Linked DNA regions of Homo sapiens. The protein of the gene in region 2 interacts with the protein of the main gene of each other region in a biochemical or structural test. Each region holds a gene or a part of one and is shown on either strand. Other genes may lie near its edges.

Evidence for each region. Proteins that work in one complex are often made in the same cells at the same time.
Region 1: the proteins of HNF1B (region 2) and SOX5 form a complex in vitro, tested with the Homo sapiens proteins (one study listed by BioGRID).

The regions. Positions count from the first base shown.
Region 1 is NC_000012.12:23,528,627-23,531,571, forward strand, and holds the end of SOX5 (transcription factor SOX-5), read right to left. Parts: 3' UTR 878-2,945; downstream 1-877.
Region 2 is NC_000017.11:37,738,311-37,742,421, forward strand, and holds part of HNF1B (hepatocyte nuclear factor 1-beta), read right to left. Parts: intron 1,330-4,111; coding exon 1,130-1,329; intron 1-1,129. UniProt on the Homo sapiens protein: Transcription factor that binds to the inverted palindrome 5'-GTTAATNATTAAC-3'. Binds to the FPC element in the cAMP regulatory unit of the PLAU gene. Transcriptional activity is increased by coactivator PCBD1.

The sequences.
Region 1 (2,945 bases), on a different chromosome or scaffold from region 2:
GGCCCAGGAATCTACATTTTTCACTGCTGATTCTGAAGTAGGTGGTCCGTGGACCAGATTTTGTAAAATACTTCTGTTAAGGGATACAGTGGGCAGTGTTTCCAGAATAAACCCTTTTATATACTTGTATTCATTTGAACCAAATGTTACCTGACCCATTGTCTTGATACCTATTTAGAAAACCCACCCACCCAACCAACCAACCAACCAACCAACCAACCAGCAAACACCCTTAAATGAAACTATTACATATAGAACTATCAAGGTAGAAAAACATATTATGGTGGAAGAGACAAGCAAAAATGGCCATTGAAAGGAAAGGAGACTTCTTGTTTTTAACATTCACTAAAAAAGTTTAAGGTAGAACTGAGAGGCTAATGTTAAACAATTCAGAAATATCCATTATTCAAAATGAGATACCAGCGAGGTGAAAATTATTCATAGTTCTTAGTAATTTCATGATCTGAAATTTATAAATCTTCTATACAAACGAAAGGATAAAGCACAATTCTAAAGCATAGAAACCCCCCATCCCCCACCCAAGGATAGTGTCCAGCCAGGGAAAACAACAATATTAAAGGTGCTTTAGACTGTTGGGTTTTCAATTGTGTTGAATCAATTACATATAAGAACAGTATCTTTTGACAGTATGGTGAAGCTAGATCTGTCTGAGTGAAATGCATTATATCAAGTCCTGACTGTCTTTCTGGGAATGTCCACAGCTAAAAATTAAACCTTTAGTTCTTAAAGTCAACTTCAATAAGAGGGATTATTTATATTAAAAACAAAATTAAATTTCCATACTTTTGTTCTTTTCATAATAAAACTAATTACACCCTCATAACAATAATTGTGAAAAGAAACACAGTATAATAAGTAAAGAACACATTTGCTGTTTTTATTGGTGCCTTGCATGGCAGTAATACTGAAAAAGGAGAATGCAAAAAAATAAAATAAAATAAACAAAAAACAAAAACGAAAAACAGGTTGGTGGCAACCCACATCTTTTTTTTAAGAGCACATAAACTCCTGTTTTATTTTTATTGTGGCATGAATGATAACATAAAACCAAAAACATGAAAATATACAACTTATATTACACTATGTGTTATGAACAAAATATAAATCTATAACTCTATGTTATATTTACATAATTACTTATTATTTTATTAAATTTCAAGTGAGATGGTAGGTTGCACATACTTTGTTTTAAGCTCCAGGCATTTGATTGTCTCTTTTCTATTTTTTTTCCATTTTTACTTGTAAAATCCAAAATATTAGAAGGACTAAGAGCTTTAGAGCCAGTGGAGCTATATAAATACTGTTTTAGTGAACCAGTGACGGAAACACTGGGGAGGACAGGAATCAATCAATCAGTAGGAAACTCAACACATCGTCTTCAACCTGGGAAGTTGATAGTTATAGGATACTTTAAAATTAAATACTGTAAAAGCCTGGCTAAACCAACAGCTATGCCCTACAAGACAAAGGGATACCTGAACCACTTTAAGTGGCCTTCATAGTTTTCCTTGCAGACCCCGTAAGTTTTATTTTATTATTAATTTGATAGACAAATACCTTATAAACCTGTTTGTAAATATACAGTTGTTTATTACAATTCAACAATTTACCCATTAGAATGAGTGAAAGTGTAATTATTTTTTATGTTTTAAATGTGATATAAGAGGTTTCTTCTGGGAACAGTCACAGCTTCTGGATTAAGAAAATATCTGAAGTTGGACCAAAAAATGGTTAATTTTCTTTAAGTGAATTAAGGTAAAATTCTACTCCGGAAATCAAATCTATAAAATAGCTTCACCACAGAAAACTTTTTTATATTTGTTCTTTATAAGAGGATTTGGTTCTAACGATGATTATGTTCTTTGGGAGGGATTTTATACATGGTTAACTCTTAACTGCAGATGCCAAATGAACTTCACAAATGGACTTCACTAATTTAGGTATAAATGTGCTGAAGAATAGTTTTATATTTTATCCAATTGTGGTAAGTTAATCACTAACTTATTATTAGTAACTATAAATGAGTAACTTTATTTTCTCCGGTAATGTTCTCTTAGATTCATATGAAAACAGGACTATTTTTAGAGAAACGGACTACAACAACTATAAAAACCAGAATTCTGGCAAGATTATTTCTCAGTGTTGGGGCAAGTGTGTGTGTGTGTGTGTGTGCGCGCGCGCGCGCGCGCATGTGAGAGAGAGAGAGAAAGGGAAAGAGATAAAGTGTGAACAGATAGGTAAGAAAGCAGACAGGAAGGAGACTGTTTATGTTTTAGTTTGATCTTTTGATCTTACTCTCATTTTCTTTATCTTTTTTGGTCATTATGGGGCACAGAAAAAGAATACAGGGTTTTAGGATCCTTTACCAAAATTATAAATCAACCAATGCCAAAAAGGCAATGTAGTAACACAGTAAGTTGCTATTCATAGCACCTTTTATCAAGTGACTTCAAAGCACTTTCAACATTAATATAACTATTTTTGCTTTTGTTTTCTTTTGGGGAAAACTAGGGCAAAGAAAATTTGATGTCCAGTGAATTAACCGTCAGAACAAGAGAACAGAATGCAGCGGTATGAACTTGCTTTTTGTTTCGGTTCATGCACAGTTTAGTCTCGGACATAAACCTAACTAAAATCAAATTTTGAATTTCAGCAGTTAAAAGTCACCATTAACAATTTTGTTTTCCCCTTCAAATAAAACAAAATATAACAAAAAAAAGACCAAACACCAAAGTGTTGTCAATTCATCGGTAAGTGTGTTAGAATTGATTTCAGCCATGAATGCCTTCAATGGCATCTACCTGGAGCTAAAACAAAGTATTCTTGTAGCCCAAACTCATGAAATGAAAACAAAGCATCTTTCATAACATGGTGTAAAGTAAGTATCCAGCAAACGTGAGAGGTGAACCCACATAAATCGGAAG
Region 2 (4,111 bases):
CAATATGAAATGAACACCTAAAACCATTCCTTTCACCAGCCCAGGGACATTGAGACAATAAATACTGAAACAATCACTTCAGAGCAGTGTGTAACAGAAGACAAGAGTCATTTTAAAAAGCAACAGGGAAAAAACCCAACCCAGAAACCCAGATAGTGGTGGAAATTAACATCTTGATAAAGACAGAGAAGCCTAGATAAAGCCAGAGGATAGTGTGTGGGGAGAGTGAAAACCGATACAAATTTTCCAGGAAAAGGATTGGATCAAAGTAATGAAAGTGTAATGTCAAAGAATACTTTCCTAAAATACAGACAGTATGTCATTCCTACTCTTGTTATTCATAGGCAGTTCAAACTTCTCTAGACGTACTTCAAAACAAAAACCTTTTAGAATTATTGGGTGGGAGAAATCTTGGGACAGAAAAAAAACTTTGGGATGGGAATGGGGATGACAAGAATTGATGGGTCAGAGTTCCAAATGCAGATGCTTTTCCTGTGCCCTGCCTTAGCCAGAAATAGCTTCTTCATGAGCAGGGCCACCAGCTGAGGTCCCCACACTCTACCAGTGTTGGTAAATGTGGGTAAACACCTTAAATTGCCTCAGGATTCAATCCCTCCCACTATCCTCCAAGAACAGGGTGAAGTTCTGAATATATCTCTCTATACAAATGCATTCTATTGTTGATACTTTTTCCAGAGAGGAGGAAATTAACAGTAATAGTAATCAATATTATTGACTGCAACGAAATGTCTTCTTTGGAAATTGACTGATGGTCACGTATCAAGGGGAGATGCTGGGTTTTCTCTCAGGGAAGACATTTCACTCTGTCACCTACTTGGTTTCAAAGAGAAGGAGGTGGAAGGAGGGGCCAAAAAGTTTAAGGTATGCTGCATACACTGACAGGCTCCTCAGAGCAACTGGCTGGGTAGCAAGGGGGCTGTGACTGAAGAACATGACAGAAGCCAATCCATTGTACAGCAACCACCAAGGCCAAATCTACTTGCCACCTTCCTCATATCTGCCAAGTGCTCACAAGGCCTTGTCGATGAAAGGGAAACTGAGGCAGCCAATGGGGTGAGAGGGCAAAGGTCACTTCAGGTTGAGGCAGAGGCAGGATGAAAACACTTACGTCGGAGGATCTCTCGTTGCTTTCTGACGTACCAGGTGTACAGAGCGGCACGCTTCTGGGTCTTCATAGGGGTGCCCTTGTTGAGATGCTGGGAGAGGTGCGACTGGTTCAGGCCGGTGACATCGACCACCTCCCTCTGGGGGATGTTGTGTTGCTGCATGTAACCCTTGATCATTTTAGCAGCCCTCCAAGGGTCCTCACTAGACAGACAAGCAGATGGTTAGGGTACTAGTGGGAGACATCTGGGGAGAAACATTCTTTTTCTAGGGGGTGCTACCTATGGTCTATGCAAAATTCTGAATTTTCCCCCCATCTAAGCTACAACTTTGGGGTAGACATGAGGCCAAAATGGAAGCTAAACAGAGGAGAAGGTGACTGCCCCTGTACGGTACACCTCATCCCTTTCTTCTGAGGTTAGTGGGCAAAAGAGGACTTCCCATCTTCAGGAATAAAAAAGCACCACCACCACTCTCTCTTATTAAGCAAAAAGAAAAGCTCTTGTTTTATTTAATTAATTAATTAATTTATTTATTATTATTTTTTTTGATGTGGAGTTTTGCTCTTGTCACCCAGGCTGGAGTGCAACGGCATCTTGGCTCACTGCAACCTCCACCAGGATCCTGGGTTCAAGCGATTCTCCTGCCTCAGCCTCCAGAGTAACTGGGATTATAGATGCCCAGCACCACACCCAGCTAAATTTTTTATTTTTAGTAGAGATGGGGTTTCACCATGTTGGCCAGGCTGGGCTCACACTCCTGACCTTAGGTGATCCATCTGCCTCGGCCTCCCAAAGTGCTGGGATTACAGACGTGAGCCACCGCGCCTGGCCATTTTATTTTGCTTTCCTCCATTTTCCTGCAATGTGGGAGATTTAAAAGGCAGGAGGCCCACTGGAAAGTGGGGATGCCTTTAGCTTGGGGCTGGACTCCCTGATCCTACAATGAAGTAGGGATAGCATCAGTTTCTGAATTTGCCCAATTTTAGCTTCAACCTCTCCTACATTATTTTCCTTTTGAATGGGTATCTCCATTTCTTATAAAACAGGGGTGAAATGTATGTGTTCACCTTCTAAGAAGCAAGGAGGATGTCTTAGCCAAATAGTAAATAATTTTCAGAGTTTTAGAAAAGTTTTCCAAAATACAATGTTGTATCTCCTTGGGACGGGAGGATCACACCACTGAGGTGAGGCAAGTAGTTAAAAAAAAAAAAAATCCACAGCTCCACCTTCCAGACAAAATCTACTGGGCTAATGGGGACAAATAACTTCAATTTCGGACATTAACAATTTTAGATGCTTGTTTTCCTGTATTATGTTTCTCATAAATTTTAAATACTGGATAAGAACATGGTTATACTTTTCATTTCTCATAAACACAGGTGTGTAAACTGCTAGTTTTAGCACCTTTGAATTTTATTTGTCTAGAATGGTTTCAACTTTGCCAATATCTTTTCTTGCTTATTGAACAGATGCTTTGAAAAGAGAGATATAATTTAAAACTAGAAATTAAAATAGTGTGCAGCACAGAACAAAAGTACTAAAGAAGCAATATATACATGTTTACTATTTATTTAATGCAGGTACATATTTAACTTACAAAAACCAGCACCCCATTACTGTATGTTGATATATATATTAGCTTGATAGAACAAGAAAAAAAACGGAAGGGAAAACTAGTTTCAGGTGAAACAAAAAAGAAAACGGTGTAGAGGCTGAAATAGATACAGCATTGCAACATAATAAGCAATTTTATTTCTAAATGGCGCCTTTAAATATGTCAAATAAAATTAATTCTGTTTAATGAATAAAAATCCAGTAATCGAACATATTTTATAAGCATTTGGGTAGTTGTGATTATTTTATTAAGACTTTGATATTAAACTCGTGAGAACACAGGCTTTGATAGAGATGTTTTTGAGAAATGCAAACTTTTTATATTAATTATATATAAGAACGAATTTCTCAAGTATTTACAAAGGTAATTTCCAAGTACACAATATGAGGAAGTAACAAGAAGAACAAAAAATGAGAAAACGAGTTACAGTTTCAAACGTGGAGAATTCACATTAAGAGGAAAATAATGTAATAAACGTTTTAGACATATCCTTGTAAACATCACAGATCATTTAAAAGTTTATTTCTGGTCAATATTTCCACCGATATTTTTAGGATGGAAAAATACTTTCAACGGCTACGAACAAGACTCCTCGAACCTTAGGGGAAAAATTGCATTTTAAAAGTGAATATTGCTTTAGCAAATTCTTCGGCTATTTTTCTTTTGTTTAAATGCCTTTACCTGTGTTCATTTTGTATGCCTAAGAAACCTAGAAAAATAGGGTACTGTTCTAAGTGGGAATGATTCTGTGGAAACAGTGAATTAGCCCAACAATTGGGGAGGGTTTAAAAAAAGCCCCCAAGAACCTTATAAATAATGGCAAAACCTTTTAAGTCCGACTTAAAAGAGTGAGGAGTAAGATGGCGCAGTTATACCTTCACAACCCTCTGACCCCAAAATTCACGTGTGTTCACCGGGAAGAGCCGGGAGAGCTGGTTATTTTTGTTTGTTTGTTTGAAAACACAGCTCAGGTTCAGAGGTTCCCTAACACCGAGAAAGGCACCGGTCCCGAAGAGGGCCTGCGGCCATTGTGTCCCAAGCGCAGGTGTCAAACGCCGGCCGCGGCGCCCGCAGGGTCCGTCCCGCACGCTCCTTCTCAAACAATGACTTTGCTGCCCACGAGCAGAGAAGCCTGGACTCCAGCGCAGTCCGCAGCGCGTTCGTTAAGGAGCCCAACTTCGGCTTCTTAGAATGCAGCCCACTTTCTAGACGCCCCCGGCGCACCTGCCTCGAGGCCGCGAGAAAGGCCAGCTCCGGCCGGGAGCCGGGGACCGGGAAGCGCGCAGTCCCGACCTTCCTCCCCTGCCTTTCTCTTCCAGGAGGTTTACTAGAACTCCGGGAACTCCAAAACGCGACTTTTCTTTCTCTT